Linked DNA regions of Homo sapiens. The protein of the gene in region 2 purifies or fractionates together with the protein of the main gene of each other region. This does not show direct contact. Each region holds a gene or a part of one and is shown on either strand. Other genes may lie near its edges.

The links. The genes of interacting proteins can lie anywhere in the genome.
Region 1: the proteins of TNFAIP2 (region 2) and CRYBG1 purify together in Homo sapiens (affinity purification with mass spectrometry, with the first as the bait; one large-scale study listed by BioGRID). This does not show direct contact.
Region 3: the proteins of TNFAIP2 (region 2) and NHSL3 purify together in Homo sapiens (affinity purification with mass spectrometry, with the first as the bait; one large-scale study listed by BioGRID). This does not show direct contact.
Region 4: the proteins of TNFAIP2 (region 2) and MYO1B purify together in Homo sapiens (affinity purification with mass spectrometry, with the first as the bait; one large-scale study listed by BioGRID). This does not show direct contact.

Annotation. Positions count from the first base shown.
Region 1 is NC_000006.12:106,509,434-106,514,799, reverse strand, and holds part of CRYBG1 (beta/gamma crystallin domain-containing protein 1), read right to left. Parts: intron 3,371-5,366; coding exon 1,761-3,370; intron 1-1,760. UniProt on the Homo sapiens protein: May function as suppressor of malignant melanoma. It may exert its effects through interactions with the cytoskeleton.
Region 2 is NC_000014.9:103,134,427-103,138,532, reverse strand, and holds the end of TNFAIP2 (tumor necrosis factor alpha-induced protein 2), read right to left. Parts: intron 3,315-4,106; coding exon 3,173-3,314; 3' UTR 2,725-3,172; coding exon of another isoform or gene 2,530-2,724; 3' UTR 1,094-2,529; downstream 1-1,093. UniProt on the Homo sapiens protein: May play a role as a mediator of inflammation and angiogenesis.
Region 3 is NC_000001.11:32,747,047-32,752,412, reverse strand, and holds part of NHSL3 (NHS-like protein 3), read right to left. Parts: intron 1-5,366. UniProt on the Homo sapiens protein: Able to directly activate the TNF-NFkappaB signaling pathway.
Region 4 is NC_000002.12:191,418,621-191,423,986, forward strand, and holds part of MYO1B (unconventional myosin-Ib), read left to right. Parts: intron 1-5,216; coding exon 5,217-5,340; 3' UTR 5,341-5,366. UniProt on the Homo sapiens protein: Motor protein that may participate in process critical to neuronal development and function such as cell migration, neurite outgrowth and vesicular transport.

The DNA of each region.
Region 1 (5,366 bases), on a different chromosome or scaffold from region 2:
TTGGTTTAGTTCTATTACAGAGAACAGCAAACGAAGAATTTCATTATAAGATCATCTTTCCTGTTTGTTTAGCCTACTATTTCACAGTGTAACATTTCTGGTTTTTCTACTGGTGTCTTCTAATTGGAAGACAGGTGAACCATCCTTCATAAGGTACACAGCAATGTTTCTCTAAGGCTCACATTTAGGAGGCTTTAGCATTCAATCACACTGGTCTTCTATAAATAATAGGCATCATTCACCCAGCTCATTTCTCTGATGCTACCTACCATCACAGAATAAATCACTGACTATATCAAAGGTCTCCAGGTTGGCAGTTGGTGAGGTAGTCAAGTTATTCATTACGCATACTTCCCTCTCAGAGTTCTCAGAGTTCTCCCAATCAGAACTCTCCTCCTCTTAAGCTTACTTATCCAAGAAATCAAATAGAATGAAAGAAACCATTAGGTTCAAGAATTATAATGATAATGTTGTTAAAATACCCACTCCTTGAACAAATATGTGAATGGAGGAAAAACTTAAGCACTTAATCATTATTCACCTGTGCTAAGTGGGAGTGGTGAGGGAGCAGAAGTGTGAGAAGGGAGGGTCTTATCAGTTTCATAGAGTACCTTCCCTATCCTGTCCACCTATACAAATTGCATTTATCATCAAGGCACAAGGCCCAGCTCCCCCAAAGCACCAGCAGTGATTTCTTGCTCGCTAGCACTTCCCCAGGATTTACAGATGGTAACATTCGTTTGGCAGTTTCATCAGATATCATCTTGTATTGTTATTTGATTTGTGTGCTTTTTGTGTGCCAGATGGGGCTATAAAAATTTCAGGGCAATATCCTGAGTCACAGTTGTAGGGTTTTTTTCCCCCACAGTGACTAGCACAATATCTTGCACAGAAAGTATTAAATAAATTACTTGTGAAATGAATAAACTTAACAGCAAGTAGTCACAGTTGTTTTGTGCTTTCATGCAGCACAAGGAGGAAGAAGCAACCAAGATACATAAATTAGGGACTTTTTGAAAAAGGCTTAGGCCAATAATGCACTAAGTTCCATAAAATGTTTTGGAATTATCTTAAACTCACACCTGTCACAGCTGCTTTCATGTAGCAAATAATCTTCCAGTAAGAACACTGATCTTTATTTCAGTAACTGAAAACTACTTTTCAGCCTGGGTCCAAAAGTATCACCAGACTCCCTAACATTATAAAGGGGAAGAAGCAACCAAGATACTTGTATTAGGAACTTTTCTTGTGTGTTTTTAAGCTTTTTGCCAATAAATGCACTGAGTGCCATAAAAGGTTCTGCAAATTCTCTTAAAACTCACACATGTCAAAGCTACTGGATCGTATTTAACATGTTACTGTTTGCTCCATATTTTGAAATTCACAGCACATGCATTTTAAGAACATCCCACCTTGGAACACCCTTGTACATTTTGAATAAAGAATAGAATCAGCTCATGTCAGGCCATGAGGTCTTATCTCTCATCTACATAAACGTTGAGCTTCAACGGATATCCTATTTTTACATTCGTTAAACTTAAATCTTGTGTTAAAAAGGGAATTAACTGAGGAGGCTGCCACAGGTGTCATCTTAAATCTTGACTGTGTAAACTGGCCCTTCACTATCTTAAGTTCAGCATGGAGGGGAAAGTTCAGTGACCAGACGTTTCTTCCACAATGCAGATACCCCGAGCCTCTCAGAGCGGACCCCCAGCACGTGTGCGGACAGCAACTCGGCCGGGACTTGCGCGGCTACTTACAGGGTCACTTTAGTGGTCACTGTCGACCTGCCCACGCCGAAATGGTTCCTGGGCTTCAAGCCGTCGGCGTCAGAAGCTCCAGGCGCTCCGGCCGCTCTGCCCAGCTCTCTGCTTCGACCTCCCTCTGCCCGGCCGTTGAAGTGGTTGGGGAGCGGGCCCCTCTTGTGCTCGGGCTTGATCTCCGGCAGCAGCGAGCTGCTCTTGACCGGGAGCTCGCGGGGGATGGCCCGCGCCGCCTCCTCCCCGCTCTCGGCCGCAGTGCCCTTGGTGACTGGGCTGGGATCGGGCACCCTCTTGGGTGGGGACTCCTTGGCGGGAGCCCGGGGGCCGCTGGCGGGCGGGGCGGGCACGGCCTCGAGGGCACGGCTCCTGCCCTTCCTCTTCGTGGGGGACGAAGCCGGGGGTGGCTGTTTGCTCCGGTCCGACTCCCCTCGGAGCTGCCCTTTGGTACCGGGGCTGGGCTTGGACTCTGGGCTCGCAGCGGAGGCAACGCCCCCGTCGAGGGCTGCCCGCGGAGATTTCACTTTCTTTTCCGCCGAGGCGTTATCGCTGGCCGCGTTTGGCGCCACCTCGTCGTCGAACACCGCGTCGTCCCTGGCAGCGCTCTCAGGGAGCTCGGCGTCCGCGCCGGGGGAGTCGGTGGATTTCTGCGACCCCCTCCGCCTCCCCGACCTACGGCCGCTGGACCTCTTCTCCATGTCGTCCCAGTCACCGCAATCTTCCGCTCTGGGAGTAATCACGACCGGCTCGTCCACTTGTGCCCCCTCAGTCTTACTCAAGTAGATGTCCAAAGTTAGCACCTTAGCAGGGTGGGCGTGACCCTTGGGGCGGGCTGTGCAGTCTGCCTGCGCGGAGCTGGCCGTGTGCGCTGCGCCCTCGGCCGGAGGCTCACCTGGCAAATCAGACGCGCCCTTGGGGGGCTGGCTGCGGGCGTTGCGGGGCCCCAGGGAGCCTTCTTCGGCACACACACTGGGGGCTCCGTTAGGGGCCTCGCCTAGTCCTCCCGCGGGCCGCTCCTGGGTGGGCGACCCTGGCGCACCCCTCACACCCAGGAAAGCCTCCTGTTCGTGGCCAGCACCTGGTGAAGCGTCCTCCCCCGGACTGCGGGCGGGCGTCTCTGCGTTCTCTTGCCTGGAGGAATTTCCCGGCGAGGAATGCAGCTGCTTGGCAGTGGTGGTGGCATCTGGGAAAGGCTCTCCCTCTGCCTCCAGAGGTTCTAATTGGGGTGAATCATTTTCATGGCACTGCTGCACAGCCACAGCCGCTGCACTGCTGCTCCAGCGAGGTGACAGCTCGGCGTCAGGGGGGGCTGCGGGGCCACCGCTCTCGGGGAGCTCGCCCTCTGCCTCTCGGGGATTCTCCCGCGGGGAGCCCTCCTCGCTTGTGTCCGTTTGCTTCAGTTGGCTGCTCTGAGATCTGCTCCTCTCACTCTCTCTCTCTGGGAGCTTAGGAGAGGCTACCACATCTTTGGGAGAGAGTGGTTTGGCATTTGATCTGGTGGGACTCTCTAACCCGTTTCTACTGTTTCTTCTCCTTCCTGCAGTGAATAGAGTGCCAAGTTTCCCCAAAACTGGCTTCCTTCTGTTGTCTTCTGGAGGTTGTGCTCTGGACTGAAAAATAAAAGGGATGAGGAGGGAACATATGAGAATCTGGTGTTTTTCCCCTTAGACGTACATTACAGAACCACCAGCCAAAATGATAACAGACCAGAGTTTCTAATTGAAAATGATAAAGTTATGTTTATGTTACATTCATTCCAACAAAATAAACTCTGGTTTTACTTTTGAATTTTGCTTAAACACCTTAAGTTTCTGGCAGTAGTCAGAATAGCATTTTCTTTGAATTATAATTCTTGTTTTTTAAAGGAAAATTTGAACGGTCCAAATAATCACATATACAAAATAAATAGTTCCTTGCCCTCTCTAGGTTTTTTACCTTCTTCCTCAATAAAGATGCAATTTATAAACAGCCGTGCATGTGACCATGGGGCAGCAGTAAACACACTAAAGTATCCTAAGGCGGACTTTTTCCCGAAACACCGCCCATTCTTTTTGTAGGAGGGAAGGAGGACGAAGAAAAAAAACCAGTCCTAGCAGCCTTCTCCTCCAGAACAGTAAGAAGCCACCTGGGTTCAACATCTAGTACTTGCAACATGAAAACCTTAAGCAAGCTCGGAGGAAGCAAGCACCTGGGCCCCGCCTTAGCCGGAGCTCCAATGGGAGGAGCGCGCGAGCGTTCAAACACCCGAGTGATCCCGCGGCTGCAGAGCGCATCGGAAAGGCTTTTGCCTGTGGGAGTTCCTACCATGTGAACACGGAGGAGTGCGTGGGGGTAGCGGGCGAGGTTGCAGGGGTGACCGCCTTTGCTCACCGCCCCCTAGAGCCGAGGAGGTGTGGCTGAAGGATGCGCTTGGGACTCTGCCTACTCCGCCCCGGGACCCGTTCCTCGCCACACGTGTGGTTCCGGGGTCGCACGGCTGGAGCCCCAGGGGCCGGCCCACCTATGCGAGGGTGCCGGGCCGCCTGCGAATGATCCGCAGCGCTCCCAGGAAGGGGGAAAACCTGGGCTTCTTATATCTCCTGGAGCAAAACGGCTAGCATCCAGTGCCCGCGCCAGAAGGCGGGAGGGAGCGCAGAACAAACCAATAAAAGCAAACCCGCCAATGGGCGCGGTGGCGCTCCGGGGTTTGCCAGAGTGGGGACTGGGTAGGTGCGGGGCATAGAGGTGGGCAGGAAGAGGAGGAGGCGAGCCTGGGAAAGCGGGGGAGCAGGGGCGGCGAGCCCAGCCTGGCTCCTAGGAGAGGGAAGTGTATTTGCGTAAGGACTCCTCTGAAACCAGGCCAAACGTGCGGCTACTGTATTTCTTAAGAATCAACTTTTAAACATTCAAAACCTAGGTGCTAGCTTGAGTCCTGGCGACGCAGGAAAGAGCCCCACCTTTCCTGGAAAAGGAACATTCAGGACAGTACCGACTACGGGGAGGTTCCCCAATCACCCTTTGAAGCTCCATTGCGTTTGAGTTACATGCAGCAAATGGACTTTGGCGATGGGAAATAGGAAAGATAACGCATGAAATTAACAGGTCAACAAGCATTTGTTGAGACAGTCCTGGTACTGTAACATAGTGTCACCCCGCTACAGCCCAGTAAGGTCATGCTGTTACCACACAGATGAGGAAAGGAAGCTCAGCCAGCCTATAAAGAGACACAAAATTGGGGTGGGGGGGAGAGGCGGTCAGAGCAGTAAAGTCAGAATTCAAATCCAAGTCGCCTCCTGCCCACCCCATGCTCCTTCCATTCAGCCACAGGGGCCCCTTTCAGAGGCCGCGGAGGTTCTGCCGCCACCCGAGAACCACAGTCGGCCCAGAGGAACAGACTACGGGTCACCCACCCCCCAGAGTCAGCTCCCGGGGAAGTGCGCATGAATCAGATTTGCTCTCAAGGTTCTAAGACTCTCCTGGTCTTAGAAGCGCCTGGTGGGCGCTTTGGGACTAGACAGCTGCTGCTGCTGCGATGAACCAATGGTGCAGCCGCTCGGAGCTCTTGTACCCGACGTCATACGATTTTAAAATCTAACCAGATTTTGATTAATCCGATTCTTCAATGGT
Region 2 (4,106 bases):
CCGACGACTCGGCCCGCCCTGGCCGCCGCGAGGCTGGGGGTCACTTTGGGACCTAAGTCCGCCCCCGTGGGAGAATGTGTGCCAGGGCCCACTGACAGCTTCCATCGGGGCTCAGGCGCCATCTCTCCCCACGTTTGCCCAGGGTCAGGGGGCCATGCAGGGGAGAGTCGCGCTGCCCCCACTTCCCCCTGACCCTGTGCTCCGAGGAGAGGAACGGGAACTCGCCCGCCCAAGGCCCACGCTCCCCACGTGGCTCAACCAGGCCAGGACCTCGCAGCCACATGGACCGGCGGGTCCAGGAGCCGGGCAGAGGGTCTCCGTGCCAAGCCGCACTGCCCCTGGCCCTCGTCTCCCTCCTTTCTCTCACTGCACGGTGGCCTCATGCCATCCGCTTTGGCCCCAAGAATGGAACTCAGGAGAAAGGGCCTGCCCTCCCCCACCCCCAGCTCCGGGCTGTCCCAGGCCCTGCTGAAGCCCACACCCCTCTTCAGGTGCACACGGCTCCCCTTGGGGCCCTCCCCGGCCTCTGTGCAACGTTCATCAAGGTACCCTTCTTCCCTTCCAGGGACTCTGCTCCTTCCCAAATTCCAGGCCAGATTGGCTGCGGAGAGGCCCACCCTTCCGTGGCAGCTGAGCCCGTCTCTGAATACAAACCAGACCTCCTGTGTCCACAGCTGTAGCTTTCAGGTCAATGCCAGCATGGTAAGAGTCAGTTCCCACTCTGTGTCCCGTGCATGCGGTTGAAATGGCTGCCCCGTGTCCACCCCACCCTCTTCCTCAGTAAAGGACGGTGGAGGAAGCCCCAAAGGGTCACAGTCCCCTTTTTACAGATGAGGAAACTGAGGCACGGAAGGGTGAAGTGACTGTCCATGCCCTACAGGCAGACACTTCCAAAGCTCCTGCTCACAGTGAGGGGATGGTGGGCCATCTCCTGCCTGGACCACATGAGGTGCTCTGGGGGCTGGGACAGGCTGGGGATTGACACAGAACCTAGGTAGGTTTGCCCGGACCCCTAGAGGCTCAGAAAGCTGCTAAGGCTGCCTGGCTGGGCCCCCCATCATTGTGCAGCTCCCAAAATAAATCACTCCACAGCCACTTTTGAATTCTGTTTTATATCAAGCTATAAAAACCTGGATCCTGTTCAACATACATACAAAAGCAGTACTCTAAAAAATAATTATTATTATATTAACAATATCAAACACGCTAACTCCTACACACGTACAAAGACCTTGGGCATCCTTTATACCGGCCACTTCCTGGCCACAGCTTTGTAAGGCAGTACCTGGGAAAAGGGGACGGACCCAAGAGAGCCGGCCCCAAATCCTGACTCAGCACTGCAGAGGCATCAGCCGGGCTGAGTCATGCCTGAGTCCGAAGGGCCCCCTCTCAGGCTGAGAAGGAACTTTCAGGCCCAGGGAGGAGCAGAGCCTTAGGGGGAGCACATGCCGAGCAGGAAAACGAGCTCACATTTTCCTGGGGTAGAGCGAGGTGCCCGGCAGGGCAGGGGATGAACGGAGGGTGCGGTGGGCAGAATAACGGCCTCCCAAAGATGTCCACGTGACAGTCCCCAGAGCCTGTGACTATGTTAGGTTACACAGCCAGTGGGAACTAAAGTTGCAGATGGAACTAAGGTGGCTAATCAGCTGACCTGAAAATAGAAAGACGACCTGGGTTCTCTGGGTAGGCGCAATGTGATCATAAGCGTCCTTAAAAGCGGTAGAGCAGGCCGGGTACAGTGACTCATGCCTATAATCCCAGCACTTTAGGAGGCTAAGGCTACAAGATCCCTTGAGCCCAGGAGTTCCAGACAAGCCTAGGCAACAGAATGAGACCCTGTATCCACAAAAAATATGTAGCTGGGCGTGGGGGATTGTCTCAGGGGACTGAGACAAGAGGATCACTTGAACCAGGAGGTCCAGGCTGCAGTGAGCCTTGATGCCATGACCAGGCCACTGCACTCCAGCCTGGGCAACACAGCAAGACCCTGTCTCAAAAAAAAAAAAAAAAAAGTGGTGGAGGGAGGCAGGAGAGGGGAGGCCTCAATGAGGTGACGGGAAAAAGATTCAACTACCCACAGCTGGCTCTGAAGATGGAGGAGCCTGAAGTCAAGAATTACGGTCAGCCTCTAAAAATGAAAAGGCCAGAAATGAATTCTCCCCTAGAGCCTCCAGAAGGAGTGCAGGACTGCCGACACCCAGATTTGAGCCCCGGGTCAGCCTTCTGACCCGCAGAACTGGAAGACCTCGTTTTGATCCACGAAGTTTGTGGAAACCTGTCACGGCAATAGGAAACAAATACAGAGGCCAAAGGGTCAACAGTGAGAGGTCAAGCTTGCCCTGCCCCTGCCCAGACCTCAGCCAGACTTCTGGGTGGCAGGGCCCACGGTGGCACCCCCAGGGCCTGTCCCTGCCTTGGGGAAGGGGGAGCCTGAGAGGACCCAGGAGGTCTTGGGCCCTTCGGTAGTAGACACCAAGCCCTCGGGGGACCACCCTCTAGTTGAGGCCTTGGGGGATGAAGAGGGAGGGCTCAGGGCCCCATTGCAGGGCCAGCCTGTAGGGGCCGTGGGGCCACCTGGATGTGACGTCTAATGCTGGCGGTGCTCACAGCTCGCCACAGGACCCTAAAAGCCCCTGCCAGACGAGAGCTCATCTTTTCCTTCTTTCTCTTCCAGTTCTGTCTTCCATTCCACCATTGCTGAATCCCGCTCACGGCGGCCCTGGGCTGCAGAGGGCAGATGGGTGAGGCTCGGCCCCTGTCTCCAGAGAGCTGAAGAGGGCCCTCGGCCCCACCCACGAGGAGGACAGTCATGAGGCCGACTGTGGAGGGGCTCTGGACAGAGGTGTCCGGGGATCCCTGAGCCTGGCTGCACTCTCCCTCCTGGTTCTTTCCTTGCGTGCACACGATCAGCTATCGTTTACAAAGAGTCCTTGGTGTTGCCTGGTTGGCTGCCCAGGATGGGAGCTCCTGCCCCCATCGGACATGTAAACAAACCAAGGTCTGTCCAGTTCCAGCTGACAGGGCCTGCACCTCCGCCAGGGCTAGGCAGAAGTAGCATCAGAGCACAGGAGACCCGGGAGGAACCGAGAACCAGCGCTGCTCTTAACAGCTCCCAGCGGGGTGTGCCCAAGGCTTGCTGGGCACTCACAGGCAGGTCAGGCCACAGGAAAAGCTAACCAACCTTTATAAGGGAAAATAGGGGCCGGGAGGGCTCCTGCGCCCCCATGCTGACGTCCAAGATGCTCCGGATGCGCTTGACCTCACTGTTGGATAGGTTCCCCTTGATGGCCAGGATAGCGCTCAGGTGGCCTTTGCTGGCAAAGAGAGCATCCTGTCAGCCCAGCCTGTCACCCACACCCCTACTCACCAGCTCCCTGCACTCCCGGCCAGTGCCACAGGGCCCGACAGCCAACGCCCGGCCCACGAGGGGGCTGCACTTCACTCTCCCTCACCCATGCCCTCCACCTGATGGTCCCAAGAGCAGCCATGCCCCAGCCTGCTTCAGGCCTCCGCACCGGCTGTTCCCCTGCAATGTTCTTCCCAGGCCCTGAGATGACCGCCTCTTCCCACCCCTTAGGTCTCCGCTAAGATGTCCACCCCCAAAAGGCTTTCTTGTCTCTAAAGTCGGCACCTCCTATCATTCACAACCTTGGTTAAACCCTATTTACAACTTGTAATTGTCTGTTTCTTTGCCTGATTATGTCATTAGTATTGCTGGCCCTCAACAGAATGAGCTACTTAAGGGAGGACTGAGACCTGGCTTCCCTTGTACTTCATTGCATCCTGGTAACTAGAACAGAGGCTGACACCTAGCAGACTTCTCCATAATTGTTGGTGGCATAGGTAGATGGATGGTGGGTGGGTGAGCAGATGGATGAGAGCTAGATGGGTGGAGGGATGGGAGCATGGATGAGTGAGTAGATGCATGGGTGGATGGGTGGGTGGGTGAGTGGTTGAGTGGATGGATAGCTAAATGGGTGGAGGGGTGGATGGATGAGTAGATGGGTGGATGGGTGCTTACATGGGTAGGTGGATGAATAGATGGATGGATAGACGGGTGGGTGGGTGGGTGGGTGGATGGGTAGACAGGTGATGAGTGGGTGAGA
Region 3 (5,366 bases), on a different chromosome or scaffold from region 2:
TGGAAGTCTAGAGCCCTCAGTTCTAGACCCCACATGGCTTATCCTTCCTGCCACCAGAACAAGCCCCTCCACTATACCGTGCTACCTCTTATGCCCGATGGCTCCAGCAAACCCTCTTCCCTCCCTGCAAAATGTGAGAGTCAAAGCTAAACCCAACTCTCTCTGAGGCCCTTCTCTTGCTAGAGTCTCAGGTTGACAACAGTGCAGTCCTTGAAAGGCTGGCAAGTTATTCACCCATAGAAAATATTCATTGAGCATACACTGTGTACCAAGCTGCGTGTACACTTTGCACAGAGAAAATGGTCCTAGTGTCAAAGCTGAAAAAGACCTCGGAGATCAGCTAGCCAATTCCCTGAATTTATATAGATAGGGAAACTGGGGCCCATAAAAAGAACAGTTAGTATGGGGGAGTAGAGGGAATACCCAAGGATAAAGTCTAAATTTCTTGGCATGAATTAAGTGAGGACAGGTATGTGAAGAGGCTCAAAGGATTTCTGAAGTGTGGCAGGTTCCTTGGCCTTCACAAGAAGCGTTGGAGGAGCTGCCCCTGCCCACCAGTTCAGCCTCATCTCCGACCTCATCTCTGAGATGAGAATCTTCTTCTCAGAGCTACAACCACACAAAACTGCTTGCCACCCTCCAGCACACAACTCCAGGCGTTCACACCTGCCATCCCCTCTTCCACCTTGGCCTGAAAGGTGCCTTTTCATTCTCAATGCCCTGCTCTACATGCTGCTCCTCCATGAAGTCTTCCTTGCACCCCCTCTTCCCCCAGCTCAGTGCTTCCTTAATGAAGGCCCCACAGACATTAGTGCTGCCTTCTGATATAGTACTGATCACACCCCAGGGCTCCCCTGCACCCCGTGTTCACCATCCCAGAACTTGCCTTCAGACAATAGTTTTAGTGTCTGCCTTTCCAACCAGAACAGTTTCCTGAAGAGCAGTGATTGTCTGACTCCTTTGAGTAACCCCAGGCTCAGCACATAGTAGGTGTACCTATGTGTTTAATAGAAACTGGTGGAGGTGGAGATGGTGGGGCTTGTAGATTAGCTGTAGTAGCAACGGTGACGCTTGCATACTGACGGAGGTAGTGATGATAGCGCATAAATACTTTCACTGCAAAGGCAGTGCTTGCTCCAGGATCCTGTGGGAGGAGTACTGCCCACTGCCAAGAACACAGGACAGGCTAGGCTAGGACTGGTGGGAAGAAGTAGGTGGTATGGAAGGCATATGGACCAGAACTCCAGGAACCACAAGAATGAGCTGGAATGCCTCGTGACCCTCTTAGAAAATGGTGGGGAAGGCCAGGCACGGTGGCTCATGCCTGTAATCCCAGCACTTTGGGAGGTAGAGGCGGGCAGATCACCTGAGGTCGGGAGTTCAAGACCAGCCTGACCAACACGGTGAAACCCCGTGTCTACTAAAAATACAAAATTAGCCAGGCATGGTGGCGGGCACCTGTAGTCCCGGCTACTTGGGAGGCTGAGGCAGGAGATTCGCTTGAACCTGGGAGTCAGAGGTTGCAGTGAGCTGAGATCACACCACTGCACTCCAGCCTGGGTGACACAGCGAGACTGTCTCAAAAAAATAAATAAATAAATAAAAGGGGCCGGGCGCTGTGGCTCATGCCTGTAATCCCAGCACTTTGGAAGGCTGAGGCGGGCAGATCACAAGGTCAGCAGTTTAAGACCAGCCTGGCCAACATGGTGAAACCCCGTCTCTACTAAAAATACAAAAATTTGCTGGGCATGGTGGCAGGCGCCTATAATCCCAGCTACTCGGGAGGCTGAGGCAGGAGAATCACTTGAACCCAGGAGGTGGAGGTTGCGGTGAGCAGAGATCGCACCACTGCACTCCAGCCTGGGAAACAAGAGCGAAACTCTGTCTCAAAAAATAAAAATGAAAATGGTGGGGAAGACCTCACTTGGCTAGACTTGGAGGAGGGGGTGTCCTAAGCAGACAGGAGGCCTCACTTAGTAATCTCCCTACCAGGAGCCTCCTGGGAATCACGCACTTTGCTACAAGATTCAGGGTTTAAATCCTCTGTGAGCTGAGCTGTCTCTATCGCCCCTTCCATGCCAAGCACAGAGATGGGCACCCTGTGAGTGGGCTGACAGTCTTTTAATGAATCAGCCCCTCAGGACAGTGGAGTACAAGGGCATAGAGTACAGTGGGGTATAACTAACGATGGGGGAGGCGGACAGAGATTTCACTCCTCCTAACCAAGGAAGCTGCAGGGACTTGGCTGACTTCCCCAAGTCTGCCAACGGGCTAGAGGTGGCCTTTGGGTCCGCACAAGGAAGGTGTGTGTCCCTGCTCCTCCAACCCCACCATGTTCACTGTGGCCCAAATAACATACAATGCTTCCTCTTATTCGTTTTCTTTAGCATGTGACAGGCCATGAGCAGCTGAGACAGCTTTGAGGGTCTGGAGAGAGAGGGATTTCCAAGGAGCAAGTGCTGAGGGGAGGCTCTCACTCTGCCCTCTGCTGACAAGAGAATGCAGATTTTTGGGGTCACAGGGCTTGGCCACCACAGTTCAACCCTTGCTAGGAGCCCTGCTTCAGGGACTGCAGGGAGGGTACAGTATGGGGAGAGCACACTGATTGAGAGCCCCTTTCAGGCCCAAGGGGAATTTCCAAGAGAAGGGTGAGGGAGAGAGAGCTGGAAGGAGCCCCTGAAGGTGTTGAGGGGAGGGCAGGGAAGACTCCCTTGGCCTTGCTTCCTTCTCAGCTCTTCACACCCCTAGCAGAGGCACCTCTCTGGGATGCGATTTTCCATTTGAAGTCTGAAGAAAGGAGTGAAGAAGCTGAAGGCCTGGCAGTTGTGGGCTTTTCTTCTGCCTCTGACACTAGATGGCCATGTGAACTTGAGCAAGTCACTTCCTCCTCCGGGCCTCAGCTGCCCCATCTGTATGTACCATGAGGGCTCCCTATGACATCTCGGGCCATGAGCTCTGAGAGTCTAGGATCCGGAGATGCCCATCTCTGGGGGCCCATACTGGAGCATTACCTATCATCCAAGGCCACTTAGCCAGGCCTTGTGCTGGCCAGGGCAGAGGGAAGAGTCTGTCAACCCAGTCTCTGCCCTTCGGGTATTCAAAATAGTGAGGTACAGCAATCCCTGGATCCCACGGAACCCCAGATAGCCAGCTGGTCCCAAGTCCCTAGCACGTGCTTTGCCTGAGGCCAGTGCCACAAACCCTTCAATCCCAGCTTCCTTTCATCCTTCCATTTCAGCTCAAGCGCCACCTCCCTGGGGAAGCCATCCCTGACCTCCCTCAGAGATTGCTGTGCTTCCCCTTGTCACACTTGTTAACCCTTAATTACTTGTTCAGCGTATTTTCCCCCCTATACACACACTCATCGTGAGGTTCATGAGGCCCAGGACTTTGTCTCTCTTATTCATCCCGAGGATAGTGCCTGGTATATAACACTTAGGAAATATCTGTGAAATAAGTGAGTGAGGCTCCCTCTCCCGTCTGGACCCTAGGAAAACAATGTCTATCCTCTCACAGGGGTCTGGGGGAGACAGAGCAGCCACCCTGTCACACTCTTTATTTTTTACATTTCTGGGAAGCCAAAATGTCACATTCTTATTGAGAAACCCCAAACTCCTCTGGGAAACCACTCCCCTATTGGAGGTATCCCATAGCAGAGGGAACTCCGCCCCTATTACATTGGTCCAGGCCCCAGGTAAGGACACTGAGGTGCCCTTTACCCAAGAAGAAAGTGGCTGGAAAAGCATATACTGCCCAACCCCAACTCTCTTAAGCACCTTGCTCTAGGGTCTGGGGACAATAATTTCCCCTGGGAGTATCACAGAGATGACACTGACACCAGGCCCTGAGGGCTGAATAGGAGTTCACTGGATAGCAAAGTGAAGGGGAGCACATTCCAGGCAGGAGAAGCAGCACAGGAACTGACACAGAAGGGGAAAACACATGGGAGTGTTGACTGACGGGCAAACAGACACCATCCTGACCTCAGAAGGGCAAGGCGCCCACGACCCCAGAGACTTGACTCTGACTGCTTTGGAACTATCTAGGCCCCTTCCTCAGCAGAGAGAAATGACATTGTTCATAATGGACTCTCCTTACCCACCTTCCTTTTTTTTTGAGTTTTGAATGAAACTGTTGCCCAGTTGAACTCCCGTCGCCCAGGCTGGAGTACAGTGGCGTGGTCTCAGTTCACTGCAGCCTCCGCCTCCTGGGTTCAAGTGATTCTCCTGCCTCAGCCTCCCAAGTACCTGGGACTACAGGCGCCTGCCACTACGCCTGGCTAATTTTTGTTTTTTGTTTTGAGACGGAGCTTTTTGTTCTTGTTGCCCAGGCTGAAGTGCAATGGCGTGATCACAGCTCACTGCAACCTCTGCCTCCTGGGTTCAAGCTATTCTCCTGCCTCAGCCTCCCGAGTAGCCTGGGATTACAGATGCATGCCACCATGCCCAGCTAATTTTTGCATTTTTAGTAGAGATGGGGTTTCGCCATGTTGGCCAGGCTAGTCTCAAACTCCTGACCTCAGGTGATCCCCTCCCGCCTTGGCCCCCGAAAGCACTGGGATTACAGGCGTGAGCCACTGTGTCCGGCCATAATTTTTGATTTTTGTATTTTTAGTAGAGACGGGGTTTCACCATGTTGGCCAGGCTGGTTTTGAACTCCTGACCTCAAGTGATCCACCTGTCTCAGCCTCCCAAAGTGCTGGGATTACAGGTGTGAGCCACCACGCCCAGCCACCTTACTCCCCTTCCTATGACATCCAGGCCACTGGGTCTCAGTGTCTTATCTGGCTGGCTGGAGGTCAGCTCTCCTTTCCTGGACACAGCTCCCATCTCCATGCCTAGCCCCCAGCCCCTACAGGCTTGCTCCCTCAGCCCATTCTCAAACTCACAGAATCCTAGAACTAGCAAGAGTCTCAGAGGCCATTAAACCCCATCTTTGTCGGCCAGTCGCGGTAGCTCACGCCTGTAATCCCAGCACTTTGGGATGCCAAGGCGGGCGGATCATGAGGTCAGGAGTTCGAGACCAGCCTGGCCAATATGGTGAAACCCCATCTCTACTAAAAATACAAAAATTAGCCAGGCACGGTGGCACTCACCTGTAGTCCCAGGCTGAAGCAGAAGAATCGCTTGAACCTGGGAGGCAGAGGTTGCAGTGACCTGAGATCTCGCCACTGCACGCCAGCCTGGGCGACAGAGTGAGACTCTGTCTCAAAAAACAAAACAAAACAAAAAAAAAACCATCTTTGTCAAGACAGGGCATGTCTGGTCCAAAGAGGGGCAGGACTTACCCAAGGTCATACAACAGAGCAGAACTCAAACTCAGGGTTCTCTCCACAACTCCACACCATGAAAGGACAGTCCTCCCTG
Region 4 (5,366 bases), on a different chromosome or scaffold from region 2:
CTGGGATTACAGGCATGCACCACCACGCCTGGCTAATTTTGTATTTTTAGTAGAGATGGGGTTTCTCCATGTTGGTCAGGCTGGTCTCGAACTCCTGACCTCAGGTGATCCGCCCCCCTGGGCCTCTGAAAGTGCTGGGATTACAGGCGTGAGCCACCGCGCCCAGCCTGTTCAGTGGAATTTAAACTTGTACATATAGAAGTGAGAATTGAATTCATTCAGAGATTCAGCTGCCTTATAGTTTCTAGTCCTTAAACTTCTAAGCTGTTCAATGTGTAACTAGATTGCATTTTAAGGATAACCTGCAAGATGTGTAATGCAGTTATGCACCACATAATGACATTTTGGTCAGCAATGGATTGCACAGATGACGGTGGTCCCCTAAGATTGTAATGGAGCTGAAAAATTCTTCTGTCTATTGATGTCACAGGTGTTGTAATGTTATAGTGCAAGGCACTACTCACATGTTTGTGCTGCTGCTGGTGTAAACAAACCTACTTCACTGCCAGTTGTCTACAAGTAAAAGCACATACAATTATGTACAATATGTAACTCTTGATAATAAATGATGTTGTTACTGGTTTATGTATTTATTATACTATACTTTTTTTTTTTTGAGACTCAGTCTTGCACTGTTGCCCAGGCTGGAGTGCAGTGGCGTGATCTCGGCTCACTGCAAGCTCCGCCTCCTGGGTTCATGCCATTCTCCTGCCTCAGCCTCCCGAGTAGCTGGGACTACAGCTGCCCGCCACCACGCCCGGCTAATTTTTTGTACTTTTAGTAGAGGTGGGGTTTCATCGTGTTAGCCAGGATGGTCTCGATCTCCTGACCTTGTGATCTGCCCGCCTCAGCCTCCCAAAGTGCTGGGATTATAGGCGTGAGCCACCACGCCCGGCCTATACTGTACTTTTTATCTTTATTTTAGCGTGTATGCCTACATGTTAAAAAAGTTAATAGTAAAACAGCCTCGGGCAGGTCCTTAAGGGGGTATTTCAGAAGGCATTGTTATCTTAGGAGAAGACAGCCCCATGTGTATTATTACCCCTGAAGACTTTCCAGTGGGACAAGACATGGAGATAGAAGACAGTGAAATTGATGCTCCTGACCCTGTGTAGGCCTAGGCTAATATGTTTGTATCTTAGTTTTTAACAAAAAGTTTAAAAAGTAAAAATAAAAAAAATTAAAATTTTAAAAATAGAGAAAAGCTTATAGAATAAGGTTATAAAGAAAATATTTTTGTACAGCTATACAAAGTATTGTGTTTTAAGCTAAGTGTTATTACAAAAGAGCCAAAAAACAGCCGGGCCCAGTGGCTCACGCCTGTAATCTTGGCACTTTGGGAGGCCAAGGCTGGTGGATTGCTTGAGCTTAGGAGTTCAATACCAGCCTGGGCGACATGACGAAACCCCTTCTCAACAAAAAAATTAAAAAATTAGCCAGCCATGGTGACACACACCTGTAGTCCCAGCTTCTCAGGAGGCTGAGGTGGGAGAATCATCTGAGCCCGGGAAGGTCAAGGCTGCCCTGAGCCATGATTGCTCCAGTGAACTCCAGCCTGGGAGACAGACCAAGACCCTGCCTCAAAAACAAAACAAAAGTGTCAAAAATGTTTTTAAAATTGTAAAGTTTATAAAGCAAAAAGTTACAGTAAGCAAAGGTTAATTTATTATTGAAGAAAGAAAAAATTACCTATAAAGTATACCGTAATGTAATGTCCTAGGCCTTCACATTCACTAACAACTCACTCACTGACTCACCCAGAGCTACTTCCAGGCCTGCAAGCCCCATTCATGGTAAGGGCGCTAGACAAGTACACTATTTTTTATCTTTTATGCTATTCTTACTGTACCTTTTCTATTCTTACTAAGTTTACACATACAAATACCATTGTGTTACAGTTACCTACAGTACAATAACACGCTGTAGCATCTAGGTTTGGGTAAATGCACTCACTCTATGATGTTTGCACAATGACAAAATCACCTAGTGATGCATTTCTCAGAATGTATCCCTTTTATTAGATGATGCATGACTATATTTCTAAAATCAAGTTCCCAAATAGAGTAAAAACTAAAGTGAATTTGTTTCATTAAACATTTTAAATATATGTGTGTGTATATACATATAGGTATACACGTGTGTACAATAGATACACATATATCATTTAAGTTATACAATTGGTTTTCTGAATATTTGAAATCCAAACAACTAATCCATGTTCCTTTTACCTTGAAATTCTAACTGGTATGAATGCCATGAAATAATACATTCCATGTTATTGTTTGTTGGAGGAGGATTTTCTCTTTTCTATGAGGTGAAGATAAATAATAGTGCTTACCTCCTAGGATTGTCTTAAAGCCTGATCTAATAACATAGTAAATGGCCAAGCACAGTGTGGTATGTAGCAAATCCTCAATATATCTTGCCTATTGTTATTTCTAGTGTGAATCTTTTTTTTTTTTTTTTTGAGACAGAGTCTTGCTCTGTCGCCTAGGCTCGAGTGCAGTGGCGAGATCTCGGCTCACTGCAACCTCTGCCTCCTGGGTTCAAGGGATTCTCCTGCCTCAGTTCCCCGAGTAGCTGAGGTTACAGGCATGCACCACCACGCCCTGCTAATTTTTGTATTTTTAGTAAAGACGAGGTTTCACCGTCTTGGCCAGGCTGGTTCCAAACTCCTGACCTCAGGTGATCCGACCACCTCAGCTTCCCAAAGTGCTGGGATTACTGTCATGATCCACCGTGCCTGGCCTCTAGTGTGAATATTAATCAGGAATTATAGACATGGAAACAGTTAATGTAGGCCAAGGTTATTGGGGAAAGAAGTTCCTATACATTTATTACACTTACAAGTGGTCTTTTTTATTTATTTTGAGGCAGAGTCTCCCTCTGTCACCCAGGTCAGAGTCCGGTGGTGTGATCCCGGCTCAATGCAGCCTCCTCTGCCTCCTAGCTGCAAACGATTCCCCTGCCTCAGCTTCCCGAGTAGCTGGAATTACAGGCATGCACCACCGTCCCTGGCTAATTTGTGTATTTTTAGTAGAGACGTGGGTTTGCCATGTTGGCCAGGCTGGTCTCGAACTCCTGGCCTCAAGTTACCTGCCTGCCTTGGCCTCCCAAAGTGCTGGGATTACAGGCATGAGCCACTGTGCCCAGCCACAAGTGGTCTTTGAAAATAAAAATGTGAAAGTGTTTGATTTTTAAAATGTGTGAATTTTCAATAAACCTGAAAGATTTTTTTTGAGACACATACATACAAGTATATATGCCAGAGATATATCTCAGGTAGTTGAATCTGGAACTATAGCTGTCCTTTCCTCATTGCTTTCAAGTTGAAAATGAAGAACCCATTTAAAAGATCAGAAGCACTATCCTTATAAAACAACTGATGAATTAGAAACACATTTGCCTTGTTTCATTCTAGCAGATAATGTTTGCAAAATGTGGCCTCTTTAGACCTTGAAACTGAAACTAATGGATACAGAGCAGAGCTGTGGATCCTCACATCGCTGGGGGATGTCAGTAAGTGGTCAGTGGTTGTTAGGTTGACTCACTTTAGTAATGTGCCATTGACTGAGAAAACCATCCCTGAGAATATGGAAAATGTCATAATGCTATGCTAATTATGAGGGTAGAGAGAAGAGATCACTGGTTTTGGAACTGGAAGACCTGGTTTCTGGCCCAGCGATGCAGCTCTCATGTCCCCCAGTGATGCTATCCTCAGTTCAGGGATCTCATCATATACAGTTGGGGGTTCCTCGCAGCACCAGCACAGGGATGGTGTGAAGAACCCTCTGTGGATGCTCAATTGTACACCTAAAGTCATCTCTTATCCCAGCAGTGGTCCACATGATACACTGAGGGAAAAATACACTAATGGATTTTTTAATCCATGAATTAATTTCTATACACTAATGGATTTTTTAAATTTTTATAATTTTTATATAAATATTTTAATGGGTATTAAAGATATATGTGGTAGATCAAACACATGATTTTATGCATATTCTGTAGGTCACTATTATTTTGAAATACATTTAAGCTAGCAATAGCTATTAGCATACTATGCAGATAACGACAAAAACTATGTAGGACATATGTGAGTAACCAGTGTTTAGAAGCCATAGACTAGAGGGTTGCCAGGCCCCTTCCTTTTGTGAAATTCTTTACCTCATTTTCTCAATTTGTTGATAATTTAATAGGAGCCCCCTCCCATATTTTTTTTTTGCCGTGGAAAAATGGAAATATAACCTGTTGGTCTTTCCATTTGAAACACAGAAATAATTCTTAGCCTTTCTACCTTACTAGAATATGATGAGTTAATGAACTTTAGTTTTCTTAGGGCTAAATGAGGACTACTGGAGGTAAATTGCATTGATACAATTCTGTGTAAGAAGTGCTCATGGGAAGAAGTGATACAGGTTGAGTCTCCCTTATTCGAAATGCTTGGGACAAGAAGTGTTCCCAGTTTCTTGTTTTGGAATACAGTCATGTGTCATTTAACTTGGGGATGTGTACTAAGAAGTGTGTCACTAGGTGATTTTGTGCAAACATCATAGAGTGTGTACTTACACAAACGTAGATGGTATAGCCTACTACACACATAGGCTGTATATTATAGTATAGCCAACTGTTTATAGCATGTTACTGTACTGCATACTGTAGGCAATTGTAACACAATGGTAAATAGTTGTCTATCTAAACAGAAAAAGTACAGTAAAAATACAGTATAAAAGACAAAAAAATGGTACGACTGTATAGGCCAGCTCCATCATAATCTTATAGGACCCCCATCGTATATGACTGACAGTGAATTAGGTATGTTTACATCAGTCACCACAAACATGAGTAGTGTATTGCCCTACATTAGGAGAGCTATGACGTCACTAAGCCATAGGAATTTTTCCGCGCTTATGGGACCACCATCATATATGTGGTTCATTGTTCACTGAAACGTTGTTAGGTAGCCCATAGACTGTACTTGCATTATACTTAATGTTTCAGTCTTAATCTGAAATGTTCCAGCAAGCATTTCCTTTAAGCATCATGTCAGTGCTTTAAACATTTCAGAGTTTGGAGGTTTCAGATTTTCGGATTAGGTTAGGGATGCGCAGCCTGTACTCGTCAAGATCAGTATCCATTAAAATACAAAAGCAAGTGTTATTGTAATCATGAGCTGTTTTGTGTATACTTTAATTTGTTTTATTCTTTTCTCCTAGGTTCCTGGTACAGTTCAGACAGGACAAAGTATGTGTGAAGTTTATTCAGGGAAACCAGAAAAATGGGAGTGTCCCAACATGTAAACGAAAAAACAACCGTCTCCTTGAAGTTGCTGTCCCTTAACTGGCGCCTCCTCTCTACTTTCATGG